Regions from separate parts of the Homo sapiens genome. Here region 2 is linked to region 1. Evidence: fine-mapped expression QTL. Tissue or cell type: whole blood. Region 1 holds a variant in brackets; the other region holds the start of a gene. All regions are shown on one strand. Distances are between the middles of the regions.

Region 1 (8,175 bases):
CCTGGGTGCCCATGGGGAAGCCTCCTCCCACCCAGCCAGTAGCCCCATGGGGTTAGGTGGGGAGAGGGAGGTGGCTGTGGGCCCCTCATGGCCACTGGTTGGCCCTCATCGCATCCTGGAGGGGGTTCTCGGGGGACCAGTGGCTCCTGTTCCAGAGCCAGGCTTTCAAGGAGCTGCTCCTGGCCCCTAGGAAGGCACTGAGAACGCAAGTGGCCCTCAGATGCTTCGAAATAGGGCAGGGTTGAGGGGTGTTGTCTGGGTTGCCAAGCCCTACTCTGAGCCACTCCTGGCCTTAAGCGACCGCCCCTGCCTCTTGGCCCCTGCCCCTGGGCAGATGGGTGTGGCCACCTCATATGCAGTCTGGGCCACCTCTCGGAGCTTTGCGGCCTTCCTGGCCTCCAGGCTGATTGGGGGCATCAGCAAAGGGAACGTCAGCCTCTCCACGGCCATCGTTGCTGACCTGGGCTCGCCTCTGGCCCGCAGTCAAGGCATGGTAAGTGCACAGGCTGGGCCTTTGGGGTCCTGGTGGTGACTTCTGGGCCTGGGTCTCCCTGTGCAGCTCGGGTGGTCTTTTCCCTAGGCGGTCATTGGGGTGGCCTTCTCACTGGGCTTCACCCTGGGCCCTATGCTCGGAGCCTCCCTGCCCCTGGAAATGGCACCCTGGTTTGCCCTGCTCTTCGCAGCCTCCGACCTGCTGTTCATCTTCTGCTTCCTGCCAGAGACGCTGCCCCTGGAGAAACGGGTAGGGCTGTGGTCTGGGACCCACAGGCCTAGGGGCTGGAGGCTTGATTCCATAGCGATGTAAAGTGCCCCTGTGTGCCAGCCCCAGATGCCAGGGAGGCTGGGCCGCTCTCTTGGTGTTGGGACCCTTGAGGCCACAGTCCGTGGGTTGCCAGGCCAGCAGCCGCTCCTGCAGGCTCTCCAATGCCATCCCCACAGGCGCCCTCTATCGCCCTGGGGTTCCGTGATGCGGCTGATCTGCTCAGCCCCCTGGCCCTGCTGCGCTTCTCGGCTGTCGCTCGTGGCCAGGACCCACCCTCTGGAGACAGTAAGGACTCGACCAACCCAAGCGTGGAGCCTGCTCTCCCCTGGGCTTCCCCGGGCGGCGCCCTTCCCTGCTGTGGTCGCCTTCTCAGCACGCGCCACCTCTCCCCAGGGCTCAGCAGCCTGCGCCGCCTGGGCCTAGTCTACTTCCTCTACCTCTTCCTGTTCTCGGGCCTGGAGTACACGCTGAGCTTCCTCACACACCAGCGCTTCCAGTTCAGTAGGTGGGTCCCCATCTGGCGACGGCCTGCTGTCTCCCTGAAATAACGCCCCTGCTTCAGGGAAGCAACCCCCATCCCCAGGAAGCCTTGGCAGCCACTCTCGCCCTGGCCCTGCCCTGGGTGGCCCTGCCCCGGGTGCCCTGCACTAACACACCCGCTCCCAGCCTACAGCAGGGGAAGATGTTTTTCCTCATCGGCCTCACCATGGCCACCATCCAGGGTGCCTATGCCCGGCGGATCCACCCTGGCGGGGAAGTTGCTGCCGTGAAGCGGGTAGGGGGCTCCCTCCAAAGCGGGTGGCAGGCAGTCCCCTGAGTCCTGCAGGGCACGGGCTGTGCTGAGGCTGCCGTGCCCACCTGCAGGCCCTCCTGCTGCTGGTGCCCGCCTTCCTCCTCATCGGCTGGGGACGTTCTCTGCCCGTGCTGGGCCTGGGGCTGCTGCTCTACTCCTTTGGTGAGTGGCCCTGCCCTGGCAGGGGATCCGATGGGCAGCAGGGGCTGGGTGATGCACCCTCCCCTGGGCTGACGGGCACCTCCTCGATGTCTCCCACCAGCCGCCGCCGTTGTGGTGCCCTGCCTGTCCTCCGTGGTCGCTGGCTATGGTGAGCCCCCTTCCCTCGGCCGAAGCCACCTGAGCGGGAGAAGGGCAGTGGTGCCTGACTGTGCCTCTTCCCACAGGCTCACCAGGGCAGAAGGGCACGGTCATGGGTACACTGCGCAGCCTAGGTGCTCTGGCCAGGGCCGCGGGGCCCCTGGTGGCCGCTTCAGGTGAGGGCGCGGGATGGTGCTGGGGCAGGCTGGGGGCCAAGCACCTGCCCTCGCCTCCCAAGTGCCAGCCCCCTCGGGGACTGGGTGACGCCACCGTCTCTCCGCAGTGTACTGGCTGGCCGGGGCCCAGGCCTGCTTCACCACGTGGTCCGGGCTCTTTTTGCTCCCCTTCTTCCTCCTGCAGAAGCTGAGTTACCCGGCACAGACGCTCAAGGCTGAGTAGCTGAGCCACTGTGCCCAGGCTGTGGGCACCAGGCAGAGTGGGAGCCTAGGTCAGGCCCCTGCCCACTGCCTGACCCCCACCCCCCGCCAGTCCAGGGAGACCCTGTGGGTGGGGGCCGGCCCCTAAGCAGGAAGCTCAGGCAGCTCCTCCAGACTTACTTACTCCTTCAGTGACTCCGAGCTGCAGCACTCCAAGGCTGTCAGGGCTTCTGTTTGTTTTTTAAACTATGCACCAGGTTTCTGATGATGAAATAAAGCACCTGTTTGTTTTATACCAAGTGCCTTTCGCCATATATAGCCGTGCTTCTACCCACACCAGGAAAGGCAGCTGGAGCTGAATGAATGGCTCCACTGACCGGAAGGGTCCAAGGCTCTTTGAGACCCTCAGTTTCCCCCTCTGCACAGTGGCAGCCTGGGGACTCACTCAGGCAGGCTCCTCCAAGGCTGGGGTCAGCCCTGGCCAGGTGGTATCTGGCAGTGTGCCCCGCACCCTGGCAGGATGTCCCCAGCACAGAGCCCTCCCCATCAAACATGAGCACACAGTGACAGTGAGACTGGGACCATGGGGACAAGGACAGGCCAGCAGTTCCCTGGACACCCTGAGTTCCCGTGGAGAGGGACACCAGGAGTGCTGGGTGGCACGTCCTGCCGCACGCGTGGCTGCAGGTGACATTTTATCAAGACATGAACATTAGGAGGTCTCTTTTCAGCACGAGACAAACATGGGAACAAAGAAATTAAAATATAAAACTGCTTCCCAGATTTAGACAAGGAACTTGCTGAAAGAATTTTATTTGTGAGTAAAACATGTTACACTGGAGAAAGGACATTCAGGACCTGTCCTCCCAAGTCGGTGTCCATATATGCAACTATATTTCATGTTGTAATACAAAGGATTAAACTACAAAAGTGAAAATTAAAAGTCATTGCATATGTGGGGTAAAGGAGGGGATAAAGGAAGAGTCCACGGTTAAGGACTTTTCATTCTGCCTTGGCAACAAAACGACACAGAAGAGAGGCAGCACGCTTGCCCGCGTAGCAGGCCCTGCGGCTCAGAGGAAGCTGGAAGCGGCGGTCAGTGCCATGCAGCAGCCTGGTTCTCGCTCGGCTGGCCAATCAGTGGGATCCGAGGTGGCTCGGCCCATCATGCCCAGGATCTGAGCCCACATCTGGCACCAGCTCTACCAAGGGCCTGTTGGGCCCACACAAGCTTGCCTGTACCTAGTCAGGCTGGTACCGGCACCTCCTGAAATGGGTCACCCTCCGGTTCCTGCTCAGCAGCTCTGAGCCCTTTTCCAGCCTCTTGGAGGGAAGTAACAACA[A/G]CAGCATCTGCCGAGGAGCACACGGTTCAGGCTCCATCAATGACGGTGATGTCGAGGGGCCCCAGGGCTACCCTCCACCTCGAGTTACCTTTGATCACAACTAGGGCATCTTTCTGGCTGAGTTAAGGTGAGAACAGTCCCCTGAAGCCTCCCCCAAATAAGTGAAAAGTGCTCTACTGTGGGGTCTGGAAAGAAGAAAGCAAAAAGCAGCCTATTCACGTTCACAGTCGAAAAATGTAAGCTAAATTGTAAACCTGCTCAAAGAAAATTCTAGAAAGGCCTCTTCCCCTCCTGATATACCTTCCCTATGACAGGAATCCAGAGACCCAAGTGAAAAAGAAACTGAGCTCCTGAATCTGATTCTGGTCGAGGGATCGTCGGTCAGACATGCATAGCATCACGTTGGGTGCACACAGGCCCATCTGCCGCTGGGGTTTCCTGCCCAGCATCTGGCCCAGACCTGCCTCTTCAAGGCCGCTGGTGGGCACACGAGTGTTTTCACGGGACCAAGGCTTTGTATATAGATTTAAGTGAGATCACTGAGCAGAGAGAATGCCACATGAAGCCAGGAGTCTGAGTCCGTCACCTGAGACTTTAGGGTGGAGGGGAAGCCAAGCAGAGACAGAATGTGGTGATTTCACAACAGGAGGGACGGCAGGAAAGGTGAGGCTCAGGAGGGTGACGTGCAGCCAAAGCTGCAGAAGCCTTCAGTACCTTCCAGCCAGGACCATGACTTAGTGCCTCCCCCCTGTGGGGAGAGCATGTCTCCCCCAGAAGCTGAGGCTCTGAGAGGACAAGGGGCAGGGTGGGGTGGGGCTGCTGAGCACACACTGGGTCAGCCCGGGGCTACACGGGGCTGGTCACGTGAGGGGACCTCTAGGCGGAGGGCTTGGCTTTTTTGCATTCCATTACACAAGGACAGAGCACAGACGTGGCCGGGGACGCTGGCAGAGCCAGGGTCGCTCCGGACAGGACAGTGTTAGCGCAGGGCTTTCAGGAGTCACTCTTCTTCTTGCTCTTCTTCAGAAAGGACGGGGTACGGAACTTCTTCTTCTTTTTGGACGGGGACTTGCCTGGAGACCCATCGCTGCCAGGGTCCGCGGCGGCCCCCTCCTCGACAGCTGAGGGGGCAGCCTCTTCAGCCACCGGGGCTGGGTCTGGGGCTGGCTCGGGGCTGGCCTCAGTAGGGGCCTCAGTGGGGCTTGGGGGTCTATGGGCTTCCTCCTCCTTCTCTAACATTGGGAAGCCGAGTGCTTCTGAAGGTTCATCAGGGGACAGATCGGGGAGAGTTGGCTTAAAGGTGGCAGCATCACTGTCATCTCCAGTAGTCGGCTCCGGCACAAGGTCTAGTGGGTGAGGTGAGAGATGGGATTAAGGGTTCCTGCCCAGATCTCAAAGGGCAGCTTGAGATGGGGGAGCCCCACACACGAAACTGCCATTTTATTTTACTCTACAGATTTTTACCAAGACAAGAAACTTAAAATATGGTCTACTCTACTGTACGGCTGGATGGAGCTAATATCATAAAATACAGACTCAGTCTCGGGGTAGTTTTTAGCTCCTTCTGGTGGGCAGTGTGCTGACAACACCAGACTCCGTCCCAGGCCTGGGTCCCCCCGCCGGAAAGACAGACTGCAGCACAAGCTGAGGACGACTAAAGGAGCGACGTCCCGCTTTCATTATGTGACGAGAAGTCTGCCCTGTCACCCTAAGGGCATGTACTAGTAGTACTGAAATTAAGTCTAAATTTGGGTCTACAACACCTGGTCTCCCCCAAAACAGCCAGTAGAAAATCGTGCATAACTCCCACAGCACGTTGTGTGACGTCAACATCCAAAAGAACAAAGCCGTTTAGGCTGGAAGTTAATTAAAAGGAAAGAGATGGCCTGTAAGGCAAGGAGTGGGGGCAAAAACTCCACCCAGCATCAGGAGTGGCCATCTGTGAAGGAGCACAGCGGCCCTGAGGACACAGCCTGGGGGCGCCTTCCTTGCACTTACCCGGGCACCCGCTCTGTCCATTCGTAAACGGCCTACAAAGTTACCAGCAACTGACAGGTTAGGCACCACAAGCTGTTTAGTGTTTAAAAATCAAGCCACACATCAGGGCCAGGGGAGTCAGCTGAGTGGTTAGGAGCAGCACAGGAGGCCCAGGCCCCAAACTCTCAGTGCTTTACCTTTGGGAAGCTGGAAGCACCCCCACCCTGCCAGCTGCCCCAGGCTAATTCCAGGCCACGCTTCATGAGAACCGGGAAAGGGCTATGGGCACACAGGCGCCGCTCCCCCTGAGGAGATGGGGCCCGCTCTGCTGGGCATGGTGTGGCTGATGCTAGGACGGAGGCTGCCCCAGGGCACTCGCTCTGGAGAGCTGCCATCATCTGAGTGAACATCACACTGCTTTACGAGGGTCCAATATCCGCTCCTCTGCCCACCTCCTTTGGACCAGCTTCAGCAAAGGTCCAAGGCAATCTGACCCCACACGGCAGGTGGCAGAACCCCACCCTGTCTGAACCGAGGCTGCACTTACATCTGATCCAGTGTGGCAAAACCCTCCCACCAAGCAATCCAAAGAGACCCTCAAAGGCTGGAGGTAGGAACTCCTGAGGCCCAGAGTGCTCCATGGCACCTAGGTGCGTGGAGGTACCCGCTGCCGCTGAAGGCAGCACAGCACTCAGGTGACTGAACCACTTCCAGGAAGGCCTCCAAGGGACTGGGTACAAAAAAGGGGGGCTTCTGTTTTTATTTTAAATAAACAGAAAACAAAACTTAATAAACAACAAAGAAGCAGGAGAATGAGGCAAAGCGCAGGGCACCGGTGGAGAGCGGAGGCAGCACGGTACTTACTAGGGTAACAGGTACTCTCTAGCGCATCCGTCTCCTGCTTGTGACGCAGCCACAGGGAGAAAAAAGCACAAGGAGAGAATCTATGCATTCAGTCACAGCCATCAGGTTACAGAAGAAGAAAGGCAGGGCCACGGGCTTCACGAGAGACATGGATGTACGAGACCGAGGGACAGACACCCGGGATCACACACCACAGACACACGGTGGCTGAGAGGCAGCCGGCGTGTGGCTCACACAGCGGAGGGCACCTCCGAAGGTGGCATCTGCATGACAACACGGCACGAGGAGTGTGCGAGCAATGGGCAACGTGGACACCAGCAACCATGGTGGGTTCCGACCCCCGAGGCCGGCCTTCCTACCTGGTCACAGCTCACATACAAATCTGTTTTGCCTGGAGTTACCCAGGACAGAAGCAATATAGGAGGAGAAAGGTGTCACGTCCTGGCGCTGATGCAAGCACACACTTCCGTGTTGCTGTTAACACGACTCCCGCCACATTCCGCCACAGCGCGCACGAGCCGTGCACCCTCCCACAGTGGCGGCCGCTGCCACCCAGAGCTCACCTTCCTCCAGCTTGATGGGAGTGCTGGGAGGCGGGTGGGGGACCGCAGGCTGGTCTGGAGGACTCTTTTCTTTCTGTTCTCTAGCCTCGTCCAGATTCTCTGCAGAGAAGCAAGAAGGATATGGTAGGAGCTGTGGACGCCACGCCATGAGCCTGTACCTGCCTCCATGGCAGATGGGGCAGCCCGCTCGGCCGCCCTCTGAGAAGGCAGGGCTCTCTCAACCCTTTCCCTGATCCTCTCCAAGAGAGGATAAAGGAAGCTGTGACCTGGGTGTTGACTGATGCGAATTTCAGAGAAACTTAACCAACTTCAGATACAAAACTTATTTCTATTCTTATTCCAAAGAGAGTCTGCCAGAGCCACTTCTGTGATGGACTCGAATGGTATGCCCTGGCCTGTCCCCCGCTGTCCTGTGCGAGTAGGGACCCCTCCCTCCCTGCCTTCTCCCTGCTGAGCAGGTGGCTGAGGGTCCTGAACCCACTCACCACCTTAAGGGACATCACATGAGCATTATTTTGGTTTTAATTCTGTGGTAGGGCATTTTATCCCAATAATTTAAACTTGGCAACTGTAATACGTATTTTTACTTTTTAAAGTGAAAAATGCTAATAAGAACCAGAGGAAAAAATGCAGGAACTAGGATCCTGGATATAGAAAAGGATTCCAAGTCTACTTCTCATTTCGGGGAAAATATGGACCAGCACTATTCTAACTCCTTCCATCTCTGTCTTTATTTCAGAAGTTTAAGATTAATAGCTTAGGATCAGCAGGTCCGTATTTTGAACCAGCAGCTATCATCATCCTTCTGAGCTCCCAGGGCCTCTGCTCCCACCCTAACAGCTGGCTCGCCTCCCCAAGTACCACGTTGGCAGCTACCTTCCAGAAGCCAGGTGTCCATAAAAAGGCCGCCATACCACCTAGCTGAGTGAGCATACAGCCTCAACCGGGAAAAGGTGCTGACCTCTGGCAGCCAGCCTGCATTTTACCTGTGGCACATTCTCCCCTCAGCCCATGCCAAGGGCCAGATCAGACCTCCTGTGGGTTCTCCTGCTGACAGCTCTGTGATCACAGAGCACGGCCAGAGCCTGTCCCCATCCACTCAGCTGCCATCACAGCCCTGCTGAAGGAGCCTCACACATCGGGGGGAAACTCCACATATCTTGTTTGACTTGTTTTTAAAAACAATCCAGGTTAC
Region 2 (8,175 bases), 86 kb after region 1:
AGAAAAGTAGATACAGGTATATAAAAATGAGAAGGTTGAGTAGAATCCTAGTCTTACTTCCTTTTTTTTTTTGAGACGGAGTTTCGCTTTTGTTGCCCAGAATGGAGTGCAATGGCACTGCGACCTCCGCCTCCTGGGTTCAAGCGATTCTCCTGCCTCAGCCTCCCTAGTAGTGGGGATTACAGGCATGCACCACCATGCCCAGCTAATTTTTGTATTTTTAGTAGAGATGAGGTTTCACTGTTGTCCAGGCTGGTCTCAAACTCCTGACCTCAGGCGATCCACCTGCCTCAGCCTCCCAAAGTGCCGGGATTGTGAGCGACCGCACCTAGCTTGTTTTTTGTTTTTGTTTTTGTTTTTTTGAGACGGAGTCTCGCTCCGTGTCGCCCAGGCTACAGTGCAACGGAGCGATCTCCACTCACTGCAAGCTCCGCCTCCCGGGTTCACGCCATTCTCCTGCCTCAGCCTCCCGAGTAGCTGGGACTACAGGCATCCGCCACCACGCCCAGCTAATTTTTTGCGTTTTTAGTAGAGACGGGATTTCACCATGTTAGCCAGGATGGTCTCGATCTCCTGACCTCATGATCCGCCCGCCTCGGCCTCCCAAAGTGCTGGGATTACAGGTGTGAGCCACCACGCTCGGCTTTTTTTTTTTTTTTTTTTTAAAGAGACAGAGTAGTGCAGTGAAGTGATCATGGCTCACTGTAGCCTCGACCTCCCAGGCTCACAGGTTCGTACCATCTTAGCCTCAGGAGCAGCTACGATTACAGGCCCATCCTAGCATGCCCAGCTTCATTGGCTACTTTTGAAGGATATTAGCGAAACAATTCATTATGTGAAACCTAGTAAATAATGGAGAAGAATTAAGCATTTATCCTCCCTTTTCTGTAAGAGATACCTCAAGATAACCAAATAGTGGAGGCATGAAAAATTATCTTTATAAAAATATTCTATTTAATAAAAGAAGTTATAGAATTCAAATATCAATATATTCAATGCTTGCTGAAATGACTGTAGGCACTGACAATCAAGGGCTGCGAACAAAGACTACTAATCATTTCTGCCTACTTACCTAAGAAGTTTGCTTGACAAAAGTAAAGCTGAATCTGATCATACCTTTAGATCTAACCACCAGTTTTCAGTAAATTCTGTGAAACTATGCCACAGAGTAAAATTGAGACTGTGCATAACTCCACATGACAAACTACCAGGTTTCATCCATAAATAAATTACAAGAGAAAACTAAATATGGAGGGGAAACTATCAATTAAAATGAGTCACACTGTATAGATAGCATGTGGATCGATTGAAATTGTTAAGAAAAAAAATGAGAATTCTGACAATTTTAACACTGGCTGGATATTTGAAAGTATTAAGGAATTATTCATTTTCTGTGATAGTGGTACTCATGTTTACCTTTTGTTTAAGTCTTTAAGATATACATATTGAACTATTTAACGGTTAAAGGATATCTAGGACTGCGGGGATATGATGAAGCAAGATTGACTGTTGAAACTGGTTGAGAAAAGGGGTTTATACTATTCTCTCTACATATGTGTATATGTTAAGAGGTAAACATGGAAGGAAAGAAAGGAAGGGCAGTCAATCTAACTCTAAGTTTCAAGCAATAAGTAAATATTTTGTTATCTTTCAAAGCATTTCAGTATTTACTTTTCTTATTCAATTCAAAGACTATAAGAACTAAAAACTAAAAATCATGTAAATAAACAGTTTTTATGGCAAAATCAGTAACACAAAACTGAACACCAAACAAAACCTTCTCAGTATATCAGATAACATCAAAAGAATTAAGGGGAAAAATGACCAGCTTGTACGAAGTATATTTTAGAAGGAAAACTATCTCACAATTCGGGGACTGGCTAGAGTTTAGACTCACATCACTCAGCGACTCTCCGAAACTTTAAAACCTAAAGACACCACAAGTAGAAAACTAACAAATCATACCAGCTGTCCATACCATTGTAAACCACATCGAAACTCTGAAAAGCAGTTTTGACTGCCCAAATCATCCACTTCCTGAAAAGACAACTTTACTATTCTAGTTTTCTCCACTGTCAAAATCAAAGGAGTATATTAAAATTTTAACGTAGGCCAGGCGCGGTGGCTCACGCCTGTAATCCCAGCACTTTTGGAGGCCTAGGCGGACGGATCACGAGGTCAAGAGACTGAGACCATCCTGGCCAACATGGTGAAACCCCGTCTCTACTAAAAATACAAAAATTAGCTGGGCGTGGTGGCGCGCGCCTGTAGTCCCAGCTACTCGGGAGGCTGAGGTAGGAGAATTGCTTGAACCTGGGAGGCGGAGATTGCAGTGACTGGAGATCGCGCCACTGTACTCCAGCCTGGCGACAGAGCGAGACTCCGTCTCAAAAAAAAAAGGTATCATCGCGGGCCTTTGTCCATTCAAGGCTCCAAAGTTTACAAACTCACTTTCATACAATTCACACCCTCTGCCTGAAATGCCCTCCTCTCTCTGGTGCCTGTTGAACTCCTACTCATCCACTCCAAGCTTGTTTTCACTAGGCGCCTCTACTCATAGACACAGTCGACCTATCAGCATTCTATTTCCTATCCCCATTAAGATCTCAGTCAATTTTTCACACAAAAAATCTTTCTTTAACTTACCAGTAATGCATACAGCTATCAGCTATGTCTTTGGTCTTTGGAGATATGACAATTGCTTTTTGTCTTTCTAAACATAAATTATGCTCAAACCAACAACAGTTTCAGGCGAACCAAAATACGTTTTTCAAGGTGGGTATGCATAAAGTGAATGCAAATTACCTCCCAACTATCTTGAGCCATTACAAGAGCAAAGATAAAAGTCATCCTAACAGGGAAAGGCCCTCTGACATCTCCCAAAAAACGAAAATAAAAGATTAAGAAAAAAGAAAAGAGAGGGAGGGCAAAGGTGACCAACAGCCCCATCGCTGATAAAGTTCCACGATTATCTCTCGAGCGTCCGTCGGCAGATATGGCTTTTCTCTTTTGGCAGAAGCCGTCGTTTTTAAATACGAGAGCCGACAGATGCGTCCGTACACAAACCTTGCAGCCACCAGCGCTGCGGACCGCGGAACCGGTCTCACAAGCAGGATGCTGACCAGCGTCCAGCCAGGGTCGTCCTCCTCCGCCCCCACCCCTGCAGCCCACAAGCCGGCCAGGAACGAGCGGCCCGGGAAAAGCCTAGTCCCCGGGGTCCTATCCCGATGAAAGATCTGCGGCGCCCTCGCTCCCCGGCTCGGCCCAGGCCGAAGGCCCCGCGGGGACCCCTCCAAGACGCCCTCGGCGCCGCAGCGGCCTCCCCGCCCCCGAGGCTGCCCGGGCCGCCGCAGGCCCCGCGGCCCCCGCCCGCCGCAACCGCGGCCCAGTTCCCCGCGCCCCCGCCGCCGCCTCAGCCCGAACCGGGCCCCCGCCGCCCCCGCTAGCTAGCCTCACCTCAGAAGCGAATCGTGGGCAGCGCGCGGGATTCCGGGGTCCCAGTGCGGCCACCGCCCGTCGGCTCCGGCTCCGGCTCCGCCCCCGTCCCCTGGCCCGCAGCAGCGGCCCGCCAGGCCTCTCCGCCCCTCAGCCCCTCCGCTCGCCCCCACCGCCCGACCTGGGTGCGGCCTGCGGCGCTGCAGCCCAACAACGCGCCGTCCCATAGGCCAAGCCGCGCAGCACTGCCGAGCAACGTACCCTGCGATTGGCGGGACCCATGAGGGGCGGGTCCCCTGCGGGCAGGGCGATTGGACTCGCCAGGCCCGCCTCGGGGCGACCCCGCCGGGGCCTGCGGAGGCCCAGGGTCCCGCGCGGAGTACACCCCGGCCGGCAGCTTCGGGCGCCAGGTCATGGCTTCACGGTGGCCAGGTAGACTGCGGCGAGCCCCTGCCGGGTCCGCTGGACACGGTTTCATTGTGATTGACCTCCGCCGGAGGGGCTGTCGGAGCCCAGGGACCCTGCCCTCCCGCCGCCGCCCAGCGCACTCCCCCAGCAGACGGGCCCTGCCCCGCGTAGCCCCGCCTTGTGCAGTCCCCAGGCCGAGTTTTGGGGCCCGGGTGGGGTCAAGGCAGCAGGGCCTGTGGGCCCCGATAAGGCTCCACAGAGGACAACTGCCTGGCCCCCGGGCCCGGCCTGCGGGTGCTGAGGAGACCAGCGAGCACCAGCCACCTCCGCACGACCAGGGAGTGAGCCTGCGGGGCTTTGGCAGGACCAGCCTCAGACCAGCACCTTCCCGCACACTGTCCCTCCTGCTGGCGCATCTGACACCCAAAAAAACAAGCAGCGAGACAAATGGGCACGGCTGCTTGTCCTCTTGACACCCATAGAAAGCTTAGGTCCAGAGCTGGGCAGTGGCAGAAGAGTGTGGAATCCAGACCTCCCTGCTCAGCAGGAGCCTCTGTGACATTGCCCCAACAAGGGTCAGGGATACTGTCTGGATGGAAGCCAGCGACCCCTGTTCTAACCATTTCTGTTGGACGTTGGCTTTTCCAAGACGATTTTTCTGACAAGATCACAATTCTGTCTCATTCACTTCTGCTTCCCATAGTTAATCACTAGGGAAACGCAAATCAAAACCACTGTGGGATACCACTTAACATTCATTAGGATGGCAGTTGAAGAAGCAGGGAGTTGGGCGCAGTGGCTTCAGCCTAAAATCCCAGCACTTAGGGAGGCAGAAACAGGAGGATAGCCTGAGCCCAGGAGTTGGCAGACTTGACTGGACAACATAAGGAGACCCTGTTCTCTACAAAAACGAGAAGAAAACAAAAAGTTTCAAGGGGGGAGAAGGAGGAAGAAGAGGAAAAAAAGAAAATAAGTGTTGGCAAAGATGCGGAGAAATTGGAACCCTTTGTGCATCGCTGACGGGAATGTAAAATGGTGTGGCTGCTGTGGAAAACCGTAGAGTGGTTCCTCAAAAAATTAAACATAATTACCACATAATCCAGCAATTCCACTTCTGGATATATACCCCAAAGAAATGAAAACAGCTATTTGTACCATGTTCATAGCAGCATTATGCAGAGAAGGAAATTCTATTTATTGGGGTTTTGTGCCTTTTTTTTTTTTTTTTTTTTTTTTTTGGAGTCAGGGTCTCTGTCGCCCAGGCTGCAGTGCAGTGTTGCAACCATGGCTCACTGCAGCCTTGACCTCCTAGGCTCAAGGGATCCTCCTGCCTCAGCCTCCCAAGTAGCTGGGACTACCAGCACGTGCCAACATGCCTGGCTAATTTTTGTTATTTTTTGTAGAGACGGGATCTCACTATGTTGCCAGGGCTGGTCTCAAACTCCTAGGCTCAAGCAATCTTCCCAAATCCAAACTCAGCCTCCCAAAGTGCTGGGATTACAGGCATAAACCCATAAACCACGATGCCTGGCCAAAAGAAAGGAAATTCTGACGCATGCTACAACATGGATGAACACTGAAGACATGCTATGTGAAATAACCCAATCACAAAAAGATAAATGTATGATTCCACTTGTATGAGGTGTCTAGAGTAGTCAAATTCAGAGAGACAGGAGGTAGAATGGTGGTTGCAAAGGGCTGGAGGAATGGGGATTTAGTGTTTAATGGGTACAGAGTTTAAGCTTGGGGTGATGAAAAAGTTCTGGAGATGGATGGTGGTGATGACTGAACAATAATATGAATATTCGCAAAGCCACAGAACTGTACACTTTAAAATAATTAAAATGATAAACTTTATAATATGAAAATTTTATCATAATAAAACAATTTTAAAGCTATTAAAATATTCCTTCCTTTTCCAACTACAAAAAAGTAAAAAGGTCCAGGCGTGGTGGCTCTTGCCTGTAATCCTAGCAATTTGGGAGGCCAAGGCGGGAGGATTGCCTGAGCTCAGGAGTTAAGAGATCAACATGGACAACATGGCAGAACACTGTCTCTACTAAAAATACAAGAAATTAGCTGGGTCTGGTGGCAGGCACCTGTAATTCCAGCTACTCAGGAGGCTGAGGCACAAGAATTGCTTGAACCCAGGAGATGGAGGTTGCAATGAGCCAAGATGGCGCCACTGCACTCCAGCCTGGGTGACAGAGACTCTGCCTCCAAAAAAAAAAAAACAAAAAAACAAATACGGTCTTAGGTGAGAGTTTTAAAATACATTGAGTTAGAATTAGATATATACAACAATAATATCAAGTAATGAGGGAGACCAATGAAAGTCACCTGAGGTCCTTATGTTGTCCAGGAGGAGGATAAAAGTATTTATTAGTTAACTCTAGACTTCAGTAAGAATAGAGAGTGTTTAACTTTCTAACTAGGAGAAGGGGGGAAATGAAATGATTTGTTTTAAGTTGCTCAATCTCAAAGAAGGGGAAAAGGAGAGAAAAGGGAGGAAGAAAACACAAACACAAGTGAGACAATATGTAGCATAAAATAAGATGGTAGATTTAATTACATTAAATACACAATGGACAAAATGCTCCAGTTAAAAGACAAGGTGTGTTTTATATGCTATTAACAAAAAAAAAAATGAAATTAAAAATACACAATTTACAATAGACTAAAAGAAACATAAAATATTTACAAATCAAACTTAAGATAAGCAAGACCACAATGGACAAAAATATAAAATCCTATTGGTAAACCTTAAAGAAGACCCAAATGGAAAGAGAGGTAAACCATGTTCATGAATCAGAAAACTCAATATTGTAAAGACGTCAATTTTCCCAAAACTGATTGATAGCTATAATAAATTCCCAAACTATCAAGTGCATCATTGTTGTTGGAATTGACAAGCTGATTTTAAAACTTATATGGGAGAAAAACCTTACATGAAAATACAAAGAGCCAGAATAGTCAAGACACTCTCAAAGAAGAAAAATAAGGTGGAAAAGACTTACTTTATCAGATCTCAATACATAATTGATAATAATGAAGACAGCTTGATATTGGCACAAGAACAGACAGACTAATGGAACAGAGGAAAGAATCCAACAACAGATCTACATATGTCATATGTGGACATATGACAGAGGTGGCATTGCAGATGGGCGCAGAAAGTTAGATTACAAACAATGATAGGACAGGTGTGTAACCCTATGGAGAGAAAAAAATGAAAGTGAATCCTTACCTCACACCATATGCAAAAAACCAAATCTAGGTGAATTAAAGGCCTAAATATGAAATTTACATTTATAAGGATTTCAGAATATAATCTAAGAGACTATCTTCATGACCTTGGAGTGGAAATAATTTCAGTGGTTTTCTTTTTTTTTTTTTTTTTTTTGGTTTTTTTTGAGATAGGGTCTCACTCTGTCTCACAGGCTGAAGTGCAGTGGCACAATCACAGCTCACTGCAGCCTTGACCTTCTGGGCTCAAGCAATCCTCTCACCCCAGCCACCTGAGTAGCTGGGACTACAGGCACGCACCACCATGTCCAGCTAATTTTTGTATTTTTTGTAGAGATGGTGTTTCGCCATGTTGTCCAGGTTGGTCTCAAACTCCTGAGCTCAAGTAATCCTCCTGCCTCTGCCCCCAAAGTGCTGGCATTACAGGTGTGAGCCACTGTACCCAGCCTGGAAAGAATTTCTTAAGCCACAAAAAGCACTAACCAAAATGAAAACACTGATCAATTCAACTGCATTAAAAATAAGAACTGGCATGCACAGTGGCTCATGCCTGTACTCCCAGCACTTTGGGAGGTCAAGATGGGAGGCTCATTGAGTCTAGGAGTTTGAGACCAGCTGGGGCATAGTAAGATCCTATCTCTAAAAAAAAAAAAAAAATTATCTGGACATGGAAGTGCGTGACTGTAGTTCCGGCTACTCAGGAGGCTGAGGTGGGAGGACTGTTTAAGCCTAGGAATTGAGGCTGCAATAAGCCAAGATTGTGCCATAACACTCCAGCCTGGGTGACAGAGCAAGACCTTGTCTCAAAAAACCCCCCCCAAAAAAAAAGGACACCATAAACAGTCAAGCCAGAGTTAGAGAAGATATTTGCAATACACATTATGGATAATATCAAGACTATACAAAGAATTATTAGATTAATAAGAAAAAATCTGGTAGCTCACGCCTATAATCCCAACTTTGGGAGGCTGAGGCCAGCAGATCGCTTGAGCTCAAGAGTTTGAGAGCAGCCTGCATAACATGATGAAACCCGTCTCTACTTAAAAATACAAAAAATTAGCTGGGCTTGGTGGTGTGGGCCTGTGG

What was found. PIP is the estimated chance that this variant, and not a neighbour inherited with it, causes the effect.
Region 2: it holds the start of ADD1, and the variant in region 1 is fine-mapped to the expression of ADD1 in whole blood (TOPMed, PIP above 0.99).

Annotation. Positions count from the first base shown.
Region 1 is chr4:2,924,918-2,933,092 of GRCh38, reverse strand. It overlaps ADD1 (adducin 1), which reads right to left. Exons shown (of 16, transcript NM_001354761.2): 15 at 6,981-7,079; 16 at 3,031-4,922. The coding sequence ends at 4,570. SLC75A1 (solute carrier family 75 member 1) reads left to right here. Exons shown (of 13, transcript NM_001146069.2): 5 at 335-493; 6 at 581-742; 7 at 940-1,048; 8 at 1,157-1,268; 9 at 1,430-1,538; 10 at 1,628-1,718; 11 at 1,819-1,866; 12 at 1,943-2,032; 13 at 2,140-2,526. The coding sequence ends at 2,255. Among named protein-coding and RNA genes, the nearest start is that of SLC75A1, 5.8 kb to the left of the region's middle. RefSeq lists enhancers at 1-27, 748-797, 1,218-1,287, 6,428-6,943. The variant A/G (reference allele first, on the strand shown) is at 3,577.
Region 2 is chr4:2,839,306-2,847,480 of GRCh38, reverse strand. ADD1 (adducin 1) reads right to left here and starts at 3,637. Exons shown (of 16, transcript NM_001354761.2): 1 at 3,457-3,637. It overlaps SH3BP2 (SH3 domain binding protein 2), which reads right to left. Exons shown (of 13, transcript NM_001122681.2): 13 at 6,385-8,175. RefSeq lists silencers at 3,176-3,325, 3,446-3,635, 3,696-4,075, 4,176-4,225 and an enhancer at 4,354-4,865.